3 separate regions of the Homo sapiens genome follow, and all the other regions are linked to region 3. Evidence: fine-mapped expression QTL. A gene starts in region 3. Each other region holds a variant in brackets. All regions are shown on one strand. Distances are from middle to middle. Region 1 overlaps NRROS (negative regulator of reactive oxygen species). Region 2 overlaps SLC51A (solute carrier family 51 member A). Region 3 holds the start of SLC51A (solute carrier family 51 member A).

Evidence for each region. PIP is the estimated chance that this variant, and not a neighbour inherited with it, causes the effect.
Region 1: its variant is fine-mapped to the expression of SLC51A in minor salivary gland (GTEx, PIP above 0.99).
Region 2: its variant is fine-mapped to the expression of SLC51A in minor salivary gland (GTEx, PIP above 0.99).

Annotation. Positions count from the first base shown.
Region 1 is chr3:196,651,314-196,659,488 of GRCh38, reverse strand. It overlaps NRROS (negative regulator of reactive oxygen species), which reads right to left. Exons shown (of 3, transcript NM_198565.3): 2 at 4,842-4,962. The coding sequence starts at 4,949. Among named protein-coding and RNA genes, the nearest start is that of NRROS, 16 kb to the right of the region's middle. RefSeq lists an enhancer at 7,972-8,175. The variant A/G (reference allele first, on the strand shown) is at 4,349.
Region 2 is chr3:196,233,225-196,241,399 of GRCh38, reverse strand. It overlaps SLC51A (solute carrier family 51 member A), which reads right to left. Exons shown (of 9, transcript NM_152672.6): 9 at 7,973-8,175. It overlaps PCYT1A (phosphate cytidylyltransferase 1A, choline), which reads left to right. Exons shown (of 9, transcript NM_001312673.2): 8 at 1,665-1,853; 9 at 2,506-7,032. The coding sequence ends at 2,712. Among named protein-coding and RNA genes, the nearest start is that of SLC51A, 21 kb to the right of the region's middle. The variant G/A (reference allele first, on the strand shown) is at 3,584.
Region 3 is chr3:196,213,164-196,221,338 of GRCh38, reverse strand. SLC51A (solute carrier family 51 member A) reads right to left here and starts at 4,805. Exons shown (of 9, transcript NM_152672.6): 1 at 4,589-4,805; 2 at 3,403-3,497. The coding sequence starts at 4,626. LOC124909479 (a long non-coding RNA gene) reads right to left here. Exons shown (of 4, transcript XR_007096240.1): 3 at 7,442-7,618; 4 at 6,697-6,916. LOC105374304 (a long non-coding RNA gene) reads left to right here and starts at 948. Exons shown (of 4, transcript XR_001740544.2): 1 at 948-1,981; 2 at 2,580-2,675; 3 at 6,995-7,154; 4 at 7,428-7,576. RefSeq lists enhancers at 1,694-1,873, 1,954-2,103 and a silencer at 1,747-2,041.

The DNA.
Region 1 (8,175 bases), 440 kb before region 3:
GGAAATACAAAAAACTAGCCGGGTGTGGTGGTGGACACCTGTAATCCCAGCTACTCCGGAGGCTGAGGCAGAGAATTGCTTGAACCCAGGAGGCAGAGATTGCAGTGAGCCGAGACTGCACCACTGCACCACTGCACTCCAGCCTGGGCGACAGAGCAAGACTCCATCTCAAAAAAAAAAAAAAAAAAAAAAGGACTTGAGAGCTTTCACCATCCTGAATTGTACAGGGAAGTAAAGTGGGTCTGGAGGGGAGAAGTGAAGAGCCAGTGGCTGTGCCGGGACTGGAGCCCAGGGCTCTGAATGCCCAGTTCAGTGCTTTTCCTAAACAGGGCTCTACTCTGATCATGCAGAATAAGGAGGCGGGAGGGACGAGGCCACCCTGGTCGCACTGCAGAAAGCACACGTGCAGGATACTTTAATTCACCCCACGCTTTGCAAAATTGGCAAAAACAACCATCAGCCATAGGATGTTATTTAGGTGTCTAGGACAAAAATGGTTTTTTTGTTTTTTGTTTTTTTGAGATGAAGTCTTACCCTGTCACCCAGGCTGGAGTGCAATGGTGTGATCTCAGCTCACTGCAATCTCTGCCTCCTGGGTTCGAGCAATTCTCCTGTTTCAGCCTCCCGAGTAGCTGGGATTACAGGCACATGCCACCACGCCCAGCTAACTTTTTTTGTATTTTTAGTAGAGACGGGGTTTCACCATGTTGACCAGGCTGGTCTCGAACTCCTGACTTCAGGTGATCTGCCTGCCTCGGCCTCCCAAAAGTGCTGGGATTACAGGCGTGAGCCACCGTGCCCGGCCAGAAAGAAGTTTTAAGTGATAAGATAGAGGAGCAATGGCATTCGTTTGCACAAGTTTATCAGTAATACAAGGGCAGTGGTTGCCTACAATTGTGGGTTCAATCCCAGAGGGCAAGTGCAGCACGGCAACAGAAGAGGAAAATCCCGAGAGAGAGGTTAGAAGAAGCACAGGTTTGGAGGACAGACTCAATCTGAATCTCGGCTCTACCACCACTAGCAGTGGAATTTCTTGGCCCCTCGGGTTCTTTATCTGATAATTAAAATAAAACCTTCCAATAATTAAACATTGATACTGTATTGACATATGGAAACCTCAACTCTTCTGTCACCTCCGCCTCTCTCTCAGAGAAACACCAGTCACCTTCTGTTCCATGTCTTTCTGGATCTTTCGTAAGATATTACCTACCTTTGTCTAAAAAACAAAAATAAGACCATACTGTGCAAACTGTTCAGTAACCTATTTTTCTCCCCCTGTCAATAAAGTATGACGGACTTATTGCCTTGGCAGTACAAATAAATGTGATCATAATCTTTTTAGGAAGCATATGCATTCATCTCATGAATAGCACAGTGGCTGAGAGCAAGAGTTCCAGGGCCAATGCTTCGTGGCTCTGCTTTTGATCAAATGGGTGACCTTTGGATGGTTACGGAACCGAAAGAGACCTCCATTACCCTGCCTGTAAAACCGAAATTATACTCGTCATTTTCGCATAGCGTTTTTTTTCAGGATCAAGTGTGACTGTTGAGGTGAAACACATTTACTGTGCTTAATAAATGTGAGCTATAATTATTAGGATGATCTAATTAATCATCTCCTATTGTTGAGCATTTGGGTTTCTCTAATTTCCAGACGAACGTTAGAAAGGATTTGCCAAGTTCTTTCCACATCCCCCTTCCCTCTTTGGTATTTTGATTGGGATTGCATTATAATTACAAAGTACTCTGGAAGAGAATTTTTATCTTTTTTTTTTTTTTTTGAGACAGAGTCTCACTCTTGTCGTCCAGGCTGGAGTGCAATGGCGCCATCTCTGCTTGCTGCAACCTCTGCCTGCCGGGTTCAAGCGATTCTGCTGCCTTAGCCTCCCACGTAGCTGGGATTACAGACTCACACCACCACACCGGGCTAATTTTGTATTTTTAGTAGAGGCAGAGTTTTGCCATGTTGGCCACCCTGACCTCGGGTGATCCACCTGCCTTGGCCTCCCCAAGTGCTGGGATTACAGGTGTGAGCCACCGCGCCCGGCCAGGTGTGTGTCTTTATGTGAGTGGGTGTTGCGCTCCTCCCTGCGTGTGGACTCACTGGAGAATGTTGTGGTCAGGGGCTTTCTTCACGCTATGGGGTGCTGTTCCACCACAGCTGCTGCAGTCGTGGGTCACACCTCTGCAATTCCCTGTGGCCCCGCTGAAGTGATGTAGAAGGACCATATGGCCATCCCAGAAAAGCTTACCATGTCCACTTTCTTTTTCTTTTTTTTTTTTTTGATACGGAGTCTTGCTCTGTCGCCCAGGCTGGAGTGCAGTGGCGCGATCTCAGCTCACTGCAACCTCGGCCTCCCTGGTTCAAGCGATTCGCCTGCCTCAGCCTCCTGAGTAGCTGAGATCACAGGTGCCCGTCACCATGCCTGGCTAATTTTTGTATTTTTAGTAGAGACGGGCTTTCACCATGTTGGTCAGGCTGGTCTCAAACTCCTGACCTCAGGTGATCTGCCTGCTTCGGCCTCCCAAAGTGCTGAGATTACAGGCGGGAGCCACCGCACCTGGCCAACGTCCACTTTCTAATAAGGTCAAATGGATAATGTGATGAGGGCCAGTGGAGGGCACCCAGACTCTCCAATTCTCAGTCCTCAACTCGGAAGAGCCACAGGAAACCCACTCTTTGGGCTTCCTGGCAGCCAATTCTCTACTCCTGCCCACTGGGCCAGAAAGTGTCAAGCAGAGGGCCTTGCCTGAACTCTGAAAGGCTGTTCATTTATCTCTCCTCTTCCTGTGCCTGGTAACCCCTGAATAACTACTGTGTAGTTAATCCTTTATTGCCTCTGTAAGAGAATGCTGGAGGTCAAACATAGCAGAGATTAATAATAATATGAGTGATAACGGATAAAACGCGTAGCACTGACTACCTACCAGGCACTGTCCTGAGTGCTTTACATGTATTAACCCATTTAATCATCAGTCAACACAGCATGATGTTATTGGTAGATATTATTATTACGTATATATTCTACAGATGGAGAAACTATGACCTAGAGTGACCCCAATGTCACCAGCTAAGGGTGGGGCTGGGTTTAAACCAGGCCAGTCTAGCTTGTAACCTCTATGTCATATTGGAATAGACTCTAGCACAGTGGTTATAGGTTCCTACTAAAAGAGGTTAAAAACCATGACAGCTATGCTTTAAGAATACATACTTGAATGTAAGTGTTAGCCCTGACATCCAATTTGTCTTCCCAACGCCTAGTATATAATATGGCTCAAGAAATGTTTATTAAATATGTGTTTCATTTTTTTTTTCTTTTTTGAGATGGAGTATCACTCTGTCACCCAGGCTGGAGTGCAGTGGCACGATGTCAGCTCACTGCAACCTCTGCCTCCCAGGTTCAAGCAATCTTCCTCAGCCTCCCGAGTAGCTGGGACTACAAGCATGTGCCACCATGCCTGGGTAATTTTTGTATTTTTAGTAGAGACGGGTTTTTACTATGTTGGCCAGGCTGGTCTCGACCTCTTGACCTTGTGATCTGCCCGCCTCGGCCTCCCAAAGTGCTGGGATGACAGGCGTGAGCCATGCACCTGGCCTAAATATGTGTTTCTTGAGCAGACTTTTGATATCATTGTTATATAGATGAAGGGGAAAATTACTGGAAATTTCTCAGTTTGGACCCAAGTCTATTTTCACATCTAGGCTGAAAGCCCTAGAGGAGGCTTGGGTATCCACGCTCCGGGTCTTCTTAGCCTGAGCGTGGTCCGGGCTGCCGCTCTGCAGAGTGGCATGGCAGCAAGTCCTCCCCGCAGCTGTGTAAGCCTTAGCGGTCAACTCGTCCACAAACTCCGAGGCAGGCTTCTCCAGCTCTCAAGCACCTCACCCGGAGATTCTCATACCATCGGTGCAGCTCAGTCATCCAGTTTTTTGTTTTGTTTTGTTTTTTTCTTTTTTTGAGAGAGTCTCACTCTGTCGCCCAGGATGGAGTGCAGGGGTGTGATCTCGGCTCACTGCAACCTCCGTCTCCCGGGTTCAAGCGATTCTCCTCCTTCAGCTTCCCAAGTAGCTGGAATTACAGGCATGCACCACCACGCCCAGCTAATTTTTGTATTTTTAGTAGAGACGGGGTTTCACCATGTTGGCCAGGCTAGTCTCGAACTCCTGACCTCAGGTGATCCGCCGGACTTGGCCTCCCTAAGTACTGGGATGACAGGCGTGAGCCACCGCGCCTGGCTTTTTTTTTTTTTTTTTTAAAGACAAGGTCTGGCCCCATCACCTAGGTTGGAGTGCAGGGGCATGATCTCAGCTCACTGCAACCTCCACTTCCTGGGCTCAAGCCACCCTCAC[A/G]TCTCAGCCTCCCAAGTAGCTGGGACTATAGGTGTGTGCCACCGCACCTGACTGATTCTTGTATTTTGTAGAGATGTGGTTTCATCATGTTGCCCAGGCTAGTCTCCAACTCCTGGGCTCAAGTGATCTGCCTGCCTCGGCCTCCTAAAGTGCTGGGATTACAGGCCTGAGCCACTGCACCCGGCCTGAATCATCCAGATTTTTAACAAGTTGTTCTTGTTCCGGGAGGATGCCCTAGGCTGGTCTCGGATGCCTCCTATCCTCAGCAGGCGTGAGAACGGCGGGGCAGGGACTGCCTGGCTCTTCCCAGGAAGCATCTTAAAATCCTGTGGTTAAAGGGCAGCTGCACATGCCCCTGTGCTAGGCAGGCACAGAGTGATGCAGGCTCCTTCATTCTCTGCCCTTCCTGATGGACAATCTGTCAGCTTTCCAAATGGACCAAGCCTTGTCAGGACAGGAGCAGCCGACAGATCAGGGTTCAAGGGAAACTCACCAACTTGCAGACTCCTTGGGAGGCTGCTGTGGCTGTTCCGCTTCTGTTCCTCCAGCCCACGGTCAGGAAGTGAAAACCCAGGCAGAGCCAAAGAGGCAGCAACTCCATCTCAAGGGCAGCCCTGTGGACAGAGAGCAGGGAAGAGGTAAGTCAGAGAAGGACATCCCAGAGGGCTGTTTGTATTATCGGCAGAAGGAGCCAGTTCCAATTCTATGTGGTCTTGGAGCTCTGTGGAGCTCCATAGAGGTGCAGCCCACAGGATACTCAGATACCTCCATTTAGCCAAGACTTCCGGCCTTTCACTGAAACTGTTGACAAGAACTCAATTTCATTTTGCCTCTACCACTTGATGGACGGGTGGCTGAACACTAAACTTCAGCGAGTCCAGCACAGAAGGGAGAAGCAAAAAGCTTGAGTAACCAGGCCTCCAGTCACCTGGAGTTTCCCATATTTTGTAATTCTGCTGAAGTTTTCCTGCCTCCAGCTCCAATCGGTCTGATGCATCCCCTGAGCTCAGTAAGTACTTGCTGAGTGAATGAATGAACAACTGGAGAGTGGACGGAGACGGAAACACGGATGGGGGCCTCTGTCCCAGAGTTACTCCTCAGCTGCTGATGTGGGGCTGTTACAAAAGCGTTGATCTCTTTGGTTCACTCATTTGACTATGACCCTTTGAAAAAAGAGGTTTGATATTTTGCTTGGACGGGGGAAACACGGAGGGAAAATGAAGAAGCAATCTTTGGGTAGAATAAAGGTGGTTAACGAAACGTGGTTGCCAGCCCGCTTGCCTGGCCAGTGCACAGAGAACAGCAATAATGAGAAGGCTTGAAGGTATACACGCACCAGCAGAGATTCAGAACTAAGGGGAGCCATAAGGGAAATGCAATATACTCATCACATTTGCCAGGTGAACAAAGGCCCAGAGATACTACTCGAGGTTGTGGATGAACTTAGTGGCAGGGCTAAGAGCAGCCCCGCCTCGCTCCCCGAGCTCCGATGAGTGAGCAGGGCAGTTTCTCCCAGCAGCGAGGCTGCACTCACTGCTGCCCTGCTGGGGACCTGACGCCCAGTGCATGCCCCCAGCTCTGCATTCTGCAGACCCAGAGGCAAGAGCTGGCCCCAGCATTCCATCTGCCCATTCCTTGACACCTACCGGAGGCCCAGTGTCTGCCCTCCCATCTTCTCCTGGGCCAGCGGCACCAGCTCACCCCACCTGCTCGCTCCAGCCACTCAGGGGCCTCCTCTTTCCTTTCTTCAAATGCATTTAGGGATCTTGAAAGCTCATTTTACCTTCTTGATCAGATTTGAATGCTCACCAGTGCAAACAGACTAATTGAAGAGCTCAATGAAACCGGGTAAGCCAGCTTTCACTTCAGGCCAGGCCAACTCCCCTTACTACAGAGAGAACCTCCAATGCAGAATTTACCAGAACTTGCCAGACACTGGGAATCCCCTTCCAGACCCATTTCTGCCTCTGCACCCACACAGGAGTCATTGCCTTGTGGCCGGCACAGGGAAGAGAGGGCAGAAGCAGAGGTGTACGGGTTCCTGACCTCAGGATCCCCCCAGCACCCTTCCCCGCCCCTGAAACCTGGGATCACCACCACTGCCCGCCATGAAATAAGGCTGCATAGTTGCAGATTTAGTAAATTACAAGGCATCATTTCAATGCTAGATACATCCTTATACTAACAAATTGTTTATCTGACATTCAAACTTCACTGGGCATCCTGAATTTTACTGAGGGGAGATGGGGAGGTAAGAACCCTCCCTTCCTCCCTGGCCACCTCTTGTCAGGTGTGGGGTGGTACCTGCTGCTGTGACTCCAGTCTCTCTGGAAGAGCCAGCCCTGCGTATCGAAGAACTGAATCTAGACGTGTAAGGGGCAAGAGTGCAGGTCCCTCAGCGAAAAGGCAACCTTCAGACTGGAAGGCAAGCCAGGCCTTGTGTCACACTCAGGAGGGGCATTTTAATTTATGGGTCATCAAGAATTTTGCAAGTTTAAAACATATCCTCTCCTTCCTCCTAAACTCAGCCAACCAGCCCAGAAAAAAACTCTTGTTGTGGCCCTGGCAGGAAGCAGCAGGATATCATGGGAAGATCATGGAATTTGGAACCAAGCAGACCAGAGTTTGAATTCTGCCTCTGTTATTTGTTATTTGTCCTTTAGGAATTCAGACAAAGTCTCCAAGACTCAGAGAATCCGTCTACAAAATGGGAGTAATAATAACTATTCCAGAGTTGCATGAGAATAACCAGTCTCATGAATGTGAAAGGGCTTCATGGCTGTAAAGGTAGCAAGTAACACAATTATTAATTATTACTTGTGAGTTCCAAACACCAGTGAGTTGACTGAGTGCTGGTTATTCCTGTGTAATCTCCAAGGTAGTTCAACAGCTACACAAAGTCTAAAATAAAGGCCTGAGTAATGTGGCTGGAAGGATGAATTATACCAACTAGATATGTAAAACATATGCAGGAAGGTTCAATTAAAAACTCTGCATTCATAAATTGCAGAGCAAGGCTAGCCCTGAGCACAGATGACTATGCTGGCTGACAGCGGTTTGTCCCCAGAGCTGCGCCTTCCCCTTCCCTGCCCTCCTCAGTGTGGCAGGGCTCTGACTTCTGAAGGTTCTGAATCTCAAACTCTGCTGTCACCTGGCCTCAAACTGCTGTCACCTGTCACAAACTCTGCTGGTTTAGTCAATGGAAGACACTCCTCCTGGGAGGTCAGACAGTAGAGGGCAGAAAGAATCCAGCATACTTCTCTCCCTTCCTCTCTGCCTTGGACAGAGACATCCTAGAGTTTCTTCCGCTGACCCCTAGGCTCTGGTGACACCACCTCCTCCTCTTTGTTTTTGTTCGTTTTGTTTTGTTTTTTGAGACGGAGTTTTGCTCTTGTTGCCCAGGTTGGAGTACAATGTTGTGATCTCGCCTCACTGCAAACTCCACCTCCCGGGTTCAACAATTCTCCTGCCTCAGCCTCCCAAGTAGCTGGGATTACAGGTGCACGCCACCACGCCTGGCTAATTTTTGTATTTTTAGTAGAGATGAGGTTCCACCATGTTGGCCAGGCTGGTCTCAATCTCATGACCTCAGGTGATCTGCCCGCCTTGACCTCCCAAAGTGATGGGATTACAGGCGTGAGTCATGGTGCCTGGCCCACCTTCTCCTCTTGTCCTCACCCTACCTAGGTGAGGATAAGAAGCTTCCTGAAGCTGCTCGTCGCTGTGTTGACTGTTTATTTGCTTTCTCAGCCTTTTCCACCATGTGTTGCCACTTTCTTGCATTAAATATCCTCTGTCTTAAATAATCTGGGCAGTTTCCGTTTCCT
Region 2 (8,175 bases), 20 kb before region 3:
TCTGGGGGCAACATAGCGAGACCCCATCTCTAAACAAACAGACAAACAAAAAAACTAAAAAAATTCATGCAAATATATATATATGTAGTGTTTCTTTCTTTTTGAGACAGGGTCTCGCTCTGTCACCGAGGCTGGAGTGCAGTGGCGTGATCTCGGCTCACTGCAGCCTCTGTCTCCTGGTGCCTTAGCCTCCTGAATAGCTGTGATTACAGGCATGTGCCACCAGGCCTGGCTAATTTTTTTTTTTTTTTTTTTTTTTTTTTTTTTTAGCAGAGATGGGGTTTTGCCATGTTTGCCAGGCTGGTCTCAAACTCCTGGCCTCAAGCGATCGGACCCCCTTGGCCTCGCAAAGTGCTGGGATTACAGGCATGAGCCACCGTATCCAGCCAACACTATACATTTTGTATGTAAATTAGACCTCAATAAAATCGATTTAAAAAGAAGAAAGCTGCTAACTTTAATGTCTTCTACATAACCAGTTTACCATGCTCCCTGACCTACTCCCATCTCTGTAAATTGTGCTATAAGAATGGATAAAATGATTACATCTAAATATGATTTATCTAGGCAGATAAACCCTAGCTCTTGTTAATTTACTTACTATAGCTTTATTTTTCCCATAAAAATCAGGTGTTTAAAAATTCTAAACATAATCCCTTTTCTCTTTATGATCTGGAAATTTTGAGAGTACTTTTCTTTTTCTTTTTTTGAGATAGAGTCACACTCAGTCATCCAGGCCAGAGTACAGTGGCGCAATCTTGGCTTACTGCAGCCTTGACCTCCGGGCTCAAGTGCTCCTCCCATCTCAGCCTCCTGAGTAGCTGGGACTACAGGCACAGGCCACCATACCCAGCTTATTTTTTATATTTTTATTTTTAGTAGAGATGAGGTCTTGCTATGTTGTCCAGGCTGCTCTCGAGTTCCTGGCCTCAAGCAGTCCTCCCACTTCGGCTTCCCAAAGTGCTGGTATTACAGGCATGAGCCACTGTGCCTGGCCAAGGATACTTCTCATTTGACTAAATACTCCCTTCCCTTCCACCGGAGGGTTTATACCATTTTCCTTATCTTTAGCAAAGTTGGTAAGACCAACGAGTATCATCATTTTGCAAATGAGTAAATGGACCTTAAAATACTAAAGGAACAAAAAGCAAAAAACACAATTCATTTAAAATAATAGAATAAGCCAGTGATAGAGGGGAAAAATCCAGTACAATAAGCAGATTAATTAAGTAAAAGATCTAGTATTTTCTCTTTCAATCTATTGTAATTAGTTTATTCTTGGCAGTATTGTGCAGTGATCTTTTAGCTGCCTCTGTATCTCCGTCTGGAATGAGGTTCGGGCCATGCTGCGCATGTTTATGTTCCAAGTTTATGTTTTATCTTTAAAACTCTGACTTTATTTGGCTACGTGCCTGTTACTGGGTATAGCCTATATTTTTAGTTTATTCCCAAATGCCCACAATATTAGAATTACCACTTCTTGTGTGTGCATCCACAGCATATCTTATCTGTTATTATGCTGAGAGTGGGGTAGATTAAAGCAAAGCAAAATTCTAGACTGAAAACAGTGTCAATTGAGTGCTTGAGCCATGTTTTTTCGTTCTCTTATGGTAGAGAAGTTTAGGATGAGCATTATTTCTCAGAAGAGTTATTTCTTTATCTAGGAGAAGAAATACCACTTGCAGGAGAGGGTTGACAAAGTAAAGAAGAAAGTGAAAGATGTGGAGGAAAAGTCAAAAGAATTTGTTCAGAAGGTGGAGGAAAAAAGCATTGACCTCATTCAGAAGTGGGAGGAGAAGTCCCGAGAATTCATTGGAAGTTTTCTGGAAATGTTTGGTCCGGAAGGAGCACTGGTATGTTCTTTCCCACTGGACAATGTAGGGAGTTCCATGTTGTGGAAAGAATGACAGAATCATTGAGCAGGAAGGGGCATCGACACTGAGAAGTTATCTAGTCTATCCCCTTATCTGGGCAGAACTATCTTTCAACTGTCCCCAGCAAGGTTTTTGAAACCTTTACAGAAAGACGTTACACATTCTCCTAGATAATTTTGCCAGCTCTCTCTCAACCTTAAAGTCTGGTGACAAGATAAGCAAGTCGCCTTGCCCAGCTTTTATCTGTGGTATGATTTTAGATAGAAGGAAAGGAAAGAATAAAGAACAATAAAAAGAAAGCAGCCTCCACTACAAGTAGCTGCAGCAGGAACCCCAGGTAAGGTGGGAATTCTGTCTTTGAGGAGTAGCAGTCTTTTCAACCAAATAAAAGATTGAGCAAGTGAGTCCTAGGTTAGATATCAGGAAGGATCTGTCTGTGAAGGTGTTTGGATAAATTAGAATAATCCTAGACTAGATTATTGAGGAAGAATGGGGAATTTCCCGGGTGATGACAGCAGGGGAGAACCCTTAAATAAATAGTACAGCATAGACTATCCCAGTCCTAGATGCTTCAGTGATGATTAAGTAGGATCCACGGTGTTTTTCTGACTCTTCCTTTCGGTTTCTGCAGAAACATATGCTGAAAGAGGGGAAGGGCCGGATGCTGCAGGCCATCAGCCCGAAGCAGAGCCCCAGCAGCAGCCCTACTCGCGAGCGCTCCCCCTCCCCCTCTTTCCGATGGCCCTTCTCCGGCAAGACTTCCCCACCTTGCTCCCCAGCAAATCTCTCCAGGCACAAGGCTGCAGCCTATGATATCAGTGAGGATGAAGAAGACTAATGTTTCCTCCCTCCTTTCCTGTCCTCCCTTTCTGTCCCATTACCTTCAGAAGCTCTCTGTTGAATTCCAAATTGTGACCCCAACACTAAACCTAAGGACAGCTACAAAGGAAAGACAACTGGGGAAAGAAGACCTAGGACTGGGGGAACCCAAACAGCCTGTCCTGCAAGTGACATCACTCACCCACACGAAGGAGGGGGACTGCACCTTAGAAGCCTGCTCTGCATCCATTTACCCCCCCCCAAGGGCTTTGTTTCACTGTTTATGTTCACGTGATCTCAACAGGGAAATTGTCATTTTCATTAATTTTTTAAAAAATTCGTCTTTCAAATGTAGAACTAATTTTTTGCCCCTGAGGAGTGGGCAGAAGAAGGAGGTAGTGTAATACGCAGAGGCCTTTTCTTCCCGGTATACTATAGCATTTGCCTTCCGTTCTGAAGCTATGTGGCTTGCCAAGTCCTTCACGAAATGAGCCACGCTGATGGGTAATTTGTGGAGAAATATCTTAATTTTGATTTCCTTAAGGAAAAGCGAAAAGCAGAGTTACAGTCACAAATCCCCTGAACGTACTGCTGTCACCAGTGTCATTGTGGCTGCGGGAAGGAGATCTGAACCTAACTTTTCTTACTCCCTGAGGAGTTTCTTGTTGGACCCAATGGGGTCCATGAAGACACTGATGGGGATGGAAGCAGACCCATGGCATCAACTGCAGTGTTTCTGCTGTGTTCATCTTCTCAGAAAACTCTGTGACCCAGTTCTTTGGGAGCTTTTGTCAGTCTCTTTCGTGCCATCTACCTTCGAAGGAAGGAACACTTTTAGAGTTACAATGATGAGGAGAGGAGCGGGACAATACTCAATCCTATACCAAGTC[G/A]ATTGAGATTAGTTTCCTACTGGGAGTAAGTGCCTGGCCCTGCTACTCCTATTTGAATGCTATTAATATTACCTAGCCTTTTACAAAGGATACTTTGTAAATGTCTGCTGTTGGAACTTGATGTTAATCCATTTTGGTCATAGCCATATTAGAGAGATTTGCACAGAATGTAAAGGCAAAAGCATAGGAAACACCTTCCTTTCTAAAGCAACAGCCTTATCACCTTGACCTCTGTCCCTCTTCAGAACATTCTTCCCTGGAACCAGTGCTCCACATCTTTCTTTTCCTCTGAGAGCTGCAGCTGGCAGGGACCTCCCTCTGCTGCTCCTCCAGCAAGCCACAGAGCATACCCTCACGTGACAAGAGTGTGGTAGGTTTTCTCCCCACTTTTCACACACGCCTGGTGGTTGTGGTTCCATCTGCCTTGTTGGCTTGCCCGGGGGGATTCAACACTTGACTTTCAAATCAAAGAATGCTAATGCTTAGCACTTGCTGTTGAGCATGCTCTAACTTTTAAAGCCCTGGCCTCCTGTCTCCTTAGCTGCTTAGCTACGCGGCCTAGCAGATCATCACCCATCAGTAATCCTGTGGCTAGATCCAGGGGAAAATTGCTTATGTCCAGGCCCCACCCCTGTCACTCATAAATACCCCTTGTGGGGGTGGAATTTTAGTGTTTTCAGCTAAGAAAACCACATTTTCTCTTTCCTTGCCTCTGCTAGGACTGTGAGCATCTCATAGTCCACTCCCTAAACACTTTCTGGTAACACCTAGTTTTCCGCCTGAGGGTCAGAGGCTAGAATCATTGCCTGCACAGCAGGACTACCTTGGTTCTTAAAACTTGGATCACCCAGGCAAGGCGTGGTGGCTCACGCCTGTCATCTCAGCACTTTGGGAGACTGAGGCTGGTGGATCACTTGAGGCCACGAGTTTGAGACCAGCCTGACCAACGTGGTGAAACCCCATCTCTACTAAAAATACAAAAATTAGCCAGGCGTGGTGGTGGGCACCTGTAATCCCAGCTACTTGGGAGGCTGAGGCAGGAGAATCCCTTGAACCCAGGAGGCGGAGGTTGCAGTGAGCAGAGATGGTGCCGCTGCAGTCCAGCCTGGGTGACAGAGCGAGACTCTGTCTCCAAAACAAAACAAAAACCACACACACATACAGAAATAAAGAGAAATAATCAACTAGAAAAAAAACAAAACTTGGATCACCCAGAAAGAGCGTCACAGAGGCGAGGGAGAATGAAGCCTCTTGTTATCCTGATCGCCTATGACAACGACATTTCTAACTCTTCTTTGAAGCGCAGTTCTTACTCTTAAATCTGGTCATACAAGCTTTGGCTTGGAATCCTGTCTGTCTTTGAAACAGCTGAAGTTAGTGTTTTCCTGTGTTACCCAGTGTTACATAGTCTCATCTTTGAACTTTTCTGCGTCAGCCTTCTCTCTTTGGGAATGCTGCCTGTTTCTGTCTAACTTATTCTCCCTGGTGTGGTGTGGCAGTGAAGTCTGTGCTGAAGCCCATCTGCTTGGTTCCTCCAAGTGCACATTATGCAAGTGTATTTGGATAGACAGGGAGATGCCCGGAACGTGGTTTTCCTCCTCCCTCCCTATTGGAGCCATACCTCCTAAATATATTGTCTGGGTCCCAAATGTTTGAGCCCTCTTCCTCTGCTCTCAGTGGGCTGCTCTTGGCATGCCCTGTGCTTGGAACGGGACCTGCAGGCTGACAGGCCTCTGAGACTGCTAGGGCCAGCAAACGTACATGTTATTGGGAAACTCCCTTTCCCCTTTTGGTGAGCTTCTACCACCTCAGTCTAATCGTTTTGACTGAAAGCTATTTGTCTGACTGAAAGCTAAAATCTTTTATAGTGTGGCCTGTTAGATACTTTGGGGTAAATGTGGTCTGAGGTGCTGGACTAGCACGGGTAGATGGAGAAAGCTGTTGGGAAGTTGCATAATGTGGTCATCTGTGCCTAATTAAATGAGGTTAGAGGTGTGCACACCACCACAATGCCTGGGATCTAAATCTTCAGATATTAACGTTTGAGGCTATGGAGCTGTTTCCCTGAATCACACACGAGAAAGCAGTCAACATGGGTGGGCCAAATGTGGCCAAGATGAGAGAGCCAGAAGTGTTGGCCTTAGAGCAGAGCCTCTGTGTGTGAGACATTAGAAGGCCAGAGCCGGGGAGGTGCCGGCGCAGCCACTGCCTTCCGGTGGGCCGGACGGAAAGCTTGGTCTTATGCTAGATTCAGAAGCACTGAAGAATGGAGGTTGACACTTTAGAGGACTAGGAAGGGATCATTTGTGCTCTTGCAGCTATTGCTGATAGCTAGAGCCAAAGACCATTATATTGCTGAGGCTTGGGTAAGAAAGTTAGGGATGTGAGGAGGTTGAAAATCCTGAAGAAGAGAAAAAATATGAGGGAGGCTAAGGAAACTTAGCCACTTTCTGATCACTGATGACTCCTTAGGCTGCACCTGAGTGATGGTGGTGTTTTTGGAGGCTGTACCTGAGTGATGGTGGTTTTTGGGGGGCTGCACCTGAGCGATAGTGATTTTTTTTTGGAGGCTGCACAGCTGGTCAGACCATCTCTAGATGTTCTTTCCACAGTGGTTCATAGGGCGTCATTCCCCCTTCCTGGATTATTTTGACTATGGGTAGCTTATTTTCAAGAGCTCTTTGCCTTTTTAATCCTGTTCCAGATCACTTATCCAAAATCTTTCCAAATCAATTATATTTTGCTGCTTTTCTTTAATTCCCTAAAAGCCATAGCTTCTAGATTTTCTATCAGCACACATTCTCACCAGAAGTTGAACCAATACAGGTAGAAAAAGAAAGCCCCCTTAATGTTTTTAACTGATGATATTTTTTTAAGCTTACCAATATAAGTATTTTTAAAGGTTCTATTTTTCAAAGTCATAACAATGATTGTTCTTGTTTTCTCTCATAGAATAGACTGCCATCGGATAAAGAGTGGTCCCTAGCTTCTATTTTTCCAAGTAAATAAGTAGAACATGTTCTTGGGATTATACCATTAAATGTTAATTTTCTTGAAGAAGAAAGATTGTTGTCTGCCAAGATTTTATGTTAGCGCTCGGATTGAGGCAGAAAACGGAAGCACCAGGTTTAACACTGGGATGACTTGGGTTGTGTTCCTGGAGGTTTGAAGTGGGCCTTCCCGCCTTTTGAGGGGGAAAACTGACTGTTTTGAACACATATCCTGGATTAGTTGGGTTGTTTTGTATTGAGGATCCCTAAAAGACAAAAGAGTCTTGGAAAGGACTGCTGGCTTCGTCTTGAACGTTCGCCCCATCACCAGTGTGAGTCCGTGGGGAAGTCTTCCTCAAGTGGGGTTCAGTCTGTAATTTTCCTGTCTGTTCTTAGTTTGTTCTGAGTTATTTTGGATTTTGTTCTTTAGCCAAATAAAGGCAGTGTGGTTTTACCTGATGTTCCATGTCCAGTGGTGTTTTTATTTTTTATTTTTATTTTTTTTGAGACGGAGTTTTGCTCTTCTTGCCCAGGCTGGAGTGCAGTGGCGCAATCTCGGCTCACTGCAGCCTCCGCCTCCCAGGTTCAAGCGATTCTCCTGCTTCAGCCTGCCAAGTAGCTGGGATTACAGGCATGCGCCACCACGCCTGGCTAATTAGTGTTTTTAGTAGAGATGGGGTTTCTCCATGTTGAGCAGGCTGGTCTCGAATTCCTGACCTCAGGTGAGCCACCTGCCTCGGCCTCCCAAAGTGCTGGGATTACAGGCGTGAGCCCCCGCGCCCGGCCGTGTCCTGTGTTTTGACCTGTGTGGTGCATTTTATGGATTTGGGACTTTTACTTGGACTCTCGGTGCCTTTGCTTCCACGTGCTGACTCTCTCCTTAGAAATCAAGCTCCATGACCACAGTGTCAGGAGATTCCTTTTCTAGCTTGTCACTGAAGACTCAAAAGCCATTGTCCCACAAAGTGAGGCTGACCCAGACCACCAGGGCCCCGCGTGGTTGGTGCCGTAGTAGCACACCTGTCAGGGAAAGGTCACCTTCCATCTGTTCTCCAGGGCCCCTGGCTTCTTCAAGACTCTGGGCTGGTGCTATTTCACCTCACCAAGTTCTCCTTTTCTTATGCCAGACACAATACTATATACTCTTCTTTTCATCTGCTTTAGGAAAGCTCAGTAAGCTTTCTTTTTTTTCCAGAGGCAGGGTCTGGCTGTATCACCCAGGCTGGAGTGTATGGCACAACCATTGCTCACTGCAGCCTCAACCTCCTGGGCTCAAGTGATCCTCCCGCCTCAGGCTCCCAAAGTGCTGGGATAGCAGGCATGAGCTGTCGCACCTAGCCAGCAATATACAACCTTGAAGGGTTAATAGTGACATGGACAGAGGCAAGGTGCCCAGTTACACATTTTCAGACATCATCTTGTTTATTACAAAACTTAAAACACCTTCCAGGCAAGATCCAAAGCAATTTTATTCTAACATTGTTCACCTTCATCTGTAGAGTCAAATGTATCTGCCAGCTTGTGTTGACAAGGGGGAATGCTTCCCATTTGGTCAAGGTTGAGGGACAGTAAAGGAATCTTGTATTCTAATGAGTACAGCAT
Region 3 (8,175 bases):
CGTGATTTTAAAATTAAAAAAAAAAAATTGATTCAATCATTCTTCTAGAATAATAGCTTTTTTTTCTCTCTCTCTTTTTTTTAAATTGAGACAGGGTTTCGGTCTGTTGCCCAGGCTGAGGCTGGTGGTGCAATCATAGCTCACTGCAACCTCGACCTCCTGGGGTTGCAGCATGGGCCACCGTGACTGGCCTGAAATAGTTTTCTTAGCATTTAATTTTAAGTTCGAGACCAGCCTGGGCAACATGGAGAAACTCCACCTCTACAAAAAAATACAAAAATTAGCTGGGCTTGGTGGCATGTGCCTGTGGTCCCCAGCTACTAGGGAGGCTGAGGTGGGAGGATCACCTGAGCCCAGCAGGTGGAGGGTTGGGGTAAGCCGAGATCGCACCACTGCACTCCAGCCTGAGTGACACAGTGAGACCCTGTCTCAAAAAAAAAAAAAAAAAGAAAAATTAAGGAACAACAAAGTTTACAAATGAAGCGAGGAAGGAGTTTCGCCACAGCCTCCCAGAGGCACTTCTTCCTGCTTCTCCTATTTCTGGCTGTGCCGTCACCATTGCCCAGAACCAGCACTTACACGCCTAGGTCTTTCCTAGATTGCCTGCTCTTTCTTTGAACTGCCTGTTTCCCAACCCTTCCTCTTCTTTCCCTGCCACTGCCCTGCCTCAGACTCTTTTCCCGCATGGCAGGCCGGGGCAACGACCTCTCATTTACATCCCTGCCTATTTTTTGCTGTTGTTGAGACGGAGTCTTGTTCTGTCACCCAGGCTGGAGTGCAATGGTGAGATCTCGGCTCACTGCAACCTCTGCCTCCCGGGTTCAAGCGATTCTCCTGCCTCAGCCTCCTGAGTAGCTGGGATTACAGGCACGCGCCACCACACCTGGCTAATTTTTGTATTTTCAGTAGAGACAGGATTTCACCACATTGGCCAGGCTGATCTTGAACTCTTGACCGCAGATGATCCGCCTGCCTCGGCCTCCCAAAGTGCTGGGATTACAGGCATGAGCCACGGTGTCCGGCCGCATCCCTGCTTCTTAAGCCTCTTCCTCTGCAGTCCATCCTGATTACTAACGAATGGCCGAGAAGCACGACTTTCATCCAGCCACTCCCAGCCTCAGAGCCTTCACGAGCTCCTTCTCGCTGCGGGATAAAGCACAGCTCCTCCGCCAGCCCGGCGCGCAGCGGGCCTCACCTCTCCTGCCCGGCCCTCTCAATTGTCCCCTGCTCTTCCACCAGGATCCTTGAATCCTGCCAGACCTCGCTCCCCTGGGCCTGGGGCGTCCCCGAACTCATCCTCGCAGCTTCCCTGTCCCAGGAGGGCCCGCTGGCCAAATCCTCCCCACTCTGCCTGCGGCGAGGCTTGCTGGACTAGCAGACTCAGAATGGCCTGTTCTGAACAGCCTTGGGGTTTCCGTTTGCACATTCTGAAGCAAAGCAATGTGAGAACCGTTTTCATTGCGTGAGGCAAGGTTTCTCAACCTGAGCACTATTGACACTTTGGCCTGAATAATCTTTTCTGTGGGGGCTCTTCCCGTGCCCTGTAGGAAGTTTAGCAGCTTTCCTGGCCTCTGACCACGAGATGCCAGTAGCACCTTCCAGTGTGGCAACCGGAAGTCTCCCGACACTGCCAAATATTCCCTGGGGGGACAGCTGCTGTGTAAGGGAAGGCTTGTACCACCAGCTGCACTCTCTCAACAGGAGGTTCACTGGAACTAGATGTAGCAGCCACCTACTGCCACTAACCACAGAGTGGCCACCAGGCATCTCCGGACACTGGCAGTTGGCAACCGCTCTGGTTCAGATCATCTGAAATGAAGCCCTACACAGCCCAAGGACACGCCCACGTCTGCAACAGAACGCACACTGAGAGCTTCCTGTTGCCTGGGAAACGTGTTAAATGTGCTACAGAGACACAGACTTGTATCCAACATTTCAGAGGTAGTCAGTATGCAGCAGGAAAACAAAATAAAACGCAGGCGTGAGTCACATTTTCTCTAAGCATGCTCGGGCCGTGATTCTCAATGTTTTTGGTGTCCGGGGAATAAGCTGAGCCCCATCCTATGCCTTTCACTTTCTTTTTCTTTTCCTTTTTTTTCTTTTATTTTTGAGACGGAGTCTCACTCACTCTGTTGCCCAGGCTGCAGTGCAGTGGCGTGATCTCGGCTCACTGCAACCTCCGCCTCCCGAGTTCAAGCAACTCTCCTGCCTCAGCCTCCCGAGTAGCTGGGATTACAGGTGCCCGCCACCACGCCTGGCTAATTTTTGTATTTTCAGTAGAGACGGGGTTTCACCATGTTGGCCAGGCTGGTCTCCAACTTCTGGCTTCAAGTGATCCACCTGCCTCGGCCTCCCAAAGTGCAGGGATTACAGGCGTGAGCCACCGCTCCCAGCCAATGCCTTTCACTTTCAAAAGTAATTCAGTAATAGAATCTTGTTGGCCAACACTGCGAGGACTTTTGCAGGTTCACCTATGTTTTTTTTTTTTTAATTACTGTTTTATTTGGAAAAAGTGCTTCTTGCAAAAGGGAAGCTGCAAAACAGAGACCTCTGCAACAATTACTTGTTTTTTCTTAAAGTGAAAGAATGGGTGGGATCCAAGGAATCAAAGCAGTAGATGGACGACCAGGAGCACCCCAAGTTATCTTCAGGAAACAGAGCGACAAAACGCAAAGGTAAAATTTCCAGTCAAGGAATTCTTCCAACAGCTGAACTTGAGCTGGCCTCGGGGATCCCCACACCCTCCCCTTCAGTGGACAATTATGACTTATTATTGCAAACAAATTACTCCACTACAATAAACACTGTAGAACAGGTTTTTGAATCCCATCTGTCCACCTGAGAGCTCAGGGGTGGAATGAGGCAAATACCCACAAACACACACACAAAAACCCGACAACAGAATGCTCCAGTGAGGACAAAGGTTTTTCAGAAAGGCTGGATCGTAAAACAAATACAACTGGTTCACCTGTGTGAAGCACGTCACTCACCGTAACCACCCTCTAGAGTGACATGGGTCCAGGGCGGATGCCGTGCAGCCCTCCAGGAGACCCGATGGGGCTTGGACCACTTGGGCACCATCTTGGGTCCCCAGATGGCTCTGGGGTCTGAAAAAGCGCCCCAGGTCGCAGTGTCCGCAGTTTGAATGAGCTTTGAGGCCAGTTTTGTGGAGGCCCAACATGACGGTTGCTCTCCGGAGCCAGGCTCTCATGCTACCCTTTTGACCCACTGACTCCTTGAGGCATTGCCCTTCTCCAGAGCCTTAACCACGATGACAGACACCGGGCCAGTTATTCTCCCCGGCTGCCCAGGTGCACCAGCTCAGGGCCGCCTCTCCCCAGCTCCACTCAGCTATCCTGGTTTCCCTCCTCTCAGTTCCCTCTGAGGAGGGTCCCCACTCACCTCTCAGGAGTTGGGCTGCTGTGGGAGGCTGAGAGAAGCAGGCGGAGGGGATGCCGTAATTGGTCTTCAGCACCTCCAGAAGATCTGCTGTGTACCTGGCGAGACACCAGCCTGTGCTCAGAACCATGGGGGCTGGGGGAAGGGGGAGGGTTGCACACTGGACCCTCAACCACTCCTGAGTGCAGGACTTTGTCCATTTCCCCTCAGGGCCTCTTTCTCTCTCTTTCTTTCTTTCCTTCCTTCCTTCCTTTCACTCTCTCTTTCTCTTTCTCTCTCCCTTCCCCTTCCCCTTCTCCTTCCTTCCTTCCTTCTGCTCTCTCTTTCTCTTTCTCTCTTCCTTCCCCTTCTCTTTCCTTCCTTCCTTCCTTCCTTTTTCTTTCTTTTTTTTTCTTTTTGAGACAGGGTCTTGCTCTGTTGTCCAGGCTGGAGTGCAGTGGTCTGTCTTGGCTCATACAGGCAGCCTTGACCTCCTGGGCTCAAGTGATCTACTCAACCCCCATCCCCATGAGTAAGCTGGGACTACAGGTGCACGCCACCAGGCCCGGCTAATTTTTTATATTTTTGGTAGAGACAGGATTTCGCCATGTTGCTCAGACACTGGTCTCGAACTCCAGGACTCAAACTGGAACTGGGCTTAAACTCCTGGACTCCCGCCTCAGCCTCCCAAAGTGCTGGGATTACAGGCGCCCGGCCTCAGGGCCCTTTTCTTAGAGGGAGTGGAGAACTGGCCCAGGTGGGGGAGTAAGACAAGCTGCCACCTAGCCAGGCTGTGCCTGGCTGCCGTGCCTGAAGAGCCCACCGTGGATTCTCTCCATGCGGGTCGGGCAGCAGCCCAGGGACTGACCAGAGAGGAAGAGCAGGATCCCAGAGGAAGGGTGAGTCCTTACAGACGGACGGGCCCCCTGCTGCTGAGGGATGCTGCCATTTCCTCTGCGAATGCCTTCCACAGCCCCCGCTCTGCGACCTTTCTCTCCCCACGCTGGGGGGCAAGGCCGAGGCCCTGGAGTGTCACACCCTGGCCCAAACCCACGTTGTCCCTGAGGACCTAGGAACAGCTAGAGCATTTCCAGTCCTGTCTCATTCTGAGTGCGGCCGCCAAAGGGCTCTGGGAGGGAGAGAGGACAGGCCGCGGGATAGGGGCCACCGCTGCCCAGCGACTGGCCCAGGGCCCGCCGCCCTCACTTACCTGGGGTCAAGCTTTATCTGGGTCCTGCCCGGCTCCATCGCCGCGTTCTCTCCAGCAATCCCGCAGGCACCGGGGTGAGGAAGGGCAGGCGGGGCGGGCAGGTGGGGGCCGGGGGCAGGGTGGCTTGCCTGGGCCGGGGTGGGGGGCAAGCAGAATTGCAGAGTCTTCCCCTCTGCCGCTCTCCCTCCTTGAGCTTCCCGGGCCAACTTTCTATCTCAGAGTTCACCCCGGAGGAATTTGATCCTCTAGGCTGGCGGAGTTCCCTGTGCCTGACTCGTCCCTGCCCCCAGGTGTGGTCCCTCCCACCTCTTGGACAGGTGCCTTTGGCCACCCCTTGCCTCTGGCCCGGCCCATCCTATAGGATTTTGCTGCCAGTCTGCCCTGCCCTTCCAGGAGCCTTCTGGGGTGGGGTGGGCTCACCACGAAGCCCCTGCCCTGGGCCGGGGTGGGGACGAAGTCCTCGCTCCTCACCGCAGTGTTCCCTGGTCAGCGGCCCCTGAAGAACCTGCTGGAACTCAGGCTTGGGCACTCTGCAGCGGGGAGACTCAGGGCTGAGGCCTCGGCCGTGTTTGGTGCTGTCAGCCTGATGTGTGGAAGGGAGGACAGGCTGGAAAAGCCAGATGAGGCCGGTGTGGGTTTCCCAGACCCCAGTTCATCACATCTGGATGATGGGCTTAGCCACCCCCACGCTGGGCCGGAAGATGCTGTATTTAAGAGGCAGAGTTGCAGAGTGAGATTGCTGGGCATTTGACAGGTCTTGAAAACCTGCTGAATTACAGGCTTGCAAACGATTTTATTGGCTGATAGCTTCCCTTTTCTCTCTCTCCACATAGACTGAAATCTCTTCGAAGCCAGACACAGCATCTTGTACTGTGGTACGGTGGTACCTCTAGGTTCCTGGCACGCAGCCTGACACATACGAAGGGCCCCTTAGAATTTGGTTGCATAGCTGATGAAAGCAGCCAGCGTCTGTCAGCATGTCTGGTGTGCCAGGGCCCGCAGGACATGCAGTGTGTTCCTTAGCTTATTTAAACTTTACCACCGCGTTACAAGGGAAGTAGTATCCTTATTCCCATTTTACAGATAAGGAGGCTGAGGTCCAGAGAGGCTAAGAAACCAGGTCAGACAGAAAGCTGTGGGGTGTGGAGAGCGGCCAAAGGGGCCTGGGGGAGGGGCTCTGTTGGGGCATGGTGGAGATGGAGGTAGTGAGAAGAGGGCCCAGGAGAGGGTGCAGAGGGTCAATTCTGGGAAGGGAGAGGGGGCTTCCTGCGCTGGGCTGGTGAGGCCATACAAGCAGTGGAAGCAGTCCCTGATGGGGTACCCGGAGGACTCCCCACTCCTGTGCCCAGACACCTCAAAGTCTCTCCCAAGAGTCAAGCTGCATCCCCCTCCAGCTTCCCCTCCTCCTAAAGTCCAGTTCCTGGGACAGGACAATGTCGTGAGGCAGGCGTCTCAGGGGCCAGCTGCCTCCTAAGGTGGAGGTCAGGGAAGGAAGAGGCCTGCAAGGGCCCTGACCCCCAGAGGGTCACTGGCCTCAGCCCACCCTGACAAAGACGCAGACTGACTCAGCTTCCTCCCAGCATCTCCGCAGGCACGTTCGCCAGGTCATTCACCCCCAGCCCACTGAGAGGCCTTGGGTTTAATTACCCAAAGCCCTGAACTTTAGACTTCCCAGAGCTGACAACAGGGCGCTGGGGATGTTCTTAGAAACTTCAGGACACAGTGGGGAATGGCAGGAAAGGTGAAAGGGCAGGAGGGAGCCGGGGGGGGCTGCGGTTGGGCTGAGACGGGTGCTTCCCCACTGGGCAGCAGAGACTGGGAGACCCCAGGAGAGACCGGCAGGGTGTCAGTGAGGGAAGGGGGCTTCTGCCCCACCCAAGGTCTCTACGGGGTTGTCTTCTGTACAGTGTGGCCCGGGATCCAGCCAGCGGGAGGCCCTGCCTGGAGGCCGGCCCATCCCCAGCTAAGGCTTGGTCAGAGAGGATGAGCTGTGGCCGCCAGGGTCTCCTCTTGGCAGTTGGGGCCTGCCAGCTCTCAGAAACTGATTTTAGAACCAAAAAGAATAAGTCCTTCTGAATTTCATTTCTTTGGCCTATTTTTTCCCACAAAATTATATGATAGCATCATCTGACACTTATTGAGACAGAGGAGGGATGGGACTCGGCTGCCAACTCCACTAATGCATTCGCTAATGCATTCCCCCCCCCAACATTTTTCTTTCTTCCTTTTTTTTTCTTACCTGCTCATTGAAGGACAGTGAAAGCATTAAGATAAGCAGCATTCCACTGTAAATCTTACACAAAATGCCACATCCACTGATCACACGACCTTGAAAAATGAAGATAGGCAGCGTCGCACTTCCAATCTTGTACTTCAGGGAATGAACTCCATTGCCTTTGTGTGCAGGAAGCCGGAAGCACGACCACTCTTTACCCTCGGCCTCATTACAAGACCAAGACCTCTGCCTCGGCGCGGCAGCTCTCACCTGGAATCCCAGCACTTTGGGAGGCCGAAGCGGACGGATCACCTGAGGTGTCAGGAGTTTGAGACCAGCCTGGCCAACAAGGTGAAACCCCGTCTCTACTAAAAATACAAAAATTAGCCAGGTGTGGTGGTGTAATCCCAGCTACTCGGGAGGCTGAGGCACGAGAATCGCTTGAACCTGGGAGGCGGAGGTTGCAGGGAGCCGAGATCTTGTCACTGCACTCCAGACTGGGTGACAGACAGAAACAAAACAAAAGCCTCTGCCAGGGAGAGGCTTTCTCGTCGTGTTCTGATCCTGCGATGTATGTGTTACCGCGATTCCTAACTATCCCTGTGCGTTCTGTCACTCCTGCAGGGACGCTCACCTACCTCATGAATTACGCGTGTCGCCCTCCTCGAGACGCCACAACGCAGTCCCCTGGGGAGCCAGCCGGAGACCTCTCCCTGCGGTGCTGTCTCCCCCGTGGTGGAACGGAAGCCCCTAATAAAGCCTTGTCTGGGAAATTTGCTTGGCCTCGTGTCAATTTTTATCGGAGCCTAAAGAACCTGTGGTCAGTAACACGATCATTTCAGTTATCACTTAAGTTTTGGCTTCCTTAATATGAGAGTCAGTTTTGAAAAATCAAAAAAGAGGCTGGGCGCCGTGGCTCACACCTGTAATCCCAGCACTTTGTGAGGCCGAGGCAGGTGGCTCACTTGAGGTCAGGAATTCGAGACCAGCCTGACCAACATGGTGAAACCCCATCTCTTAAAAATACAAAAATTAGGCCGAGTGCAGTGGCTCACTCCTGTAATGCCCGTACTTTGGGAGGCTGAGGTGGGTGGATCACCTGAGGTCAGGAGTTCGAGACCAGGCTGGCCAACATGGTGAAACTCCGTCTCTACTAAAACTACAAAAAAAAAATTAGCTGGGCATGGTGGCAGGTGCCTATAATCCTAGCTACTTGGGAGGCTGAGGCAAGAGAATTGCTTGAACCCGGGAGGCAGAGATTGCAGTGAGCTGAGATGGTGCCATTGCACTCCAGCCCGGGCGACAGAGTGAGACTCAGTCTCAAAACAACAACAACAAACCTCATCTCTTCCAGTCCCCCTCCTCCCACACC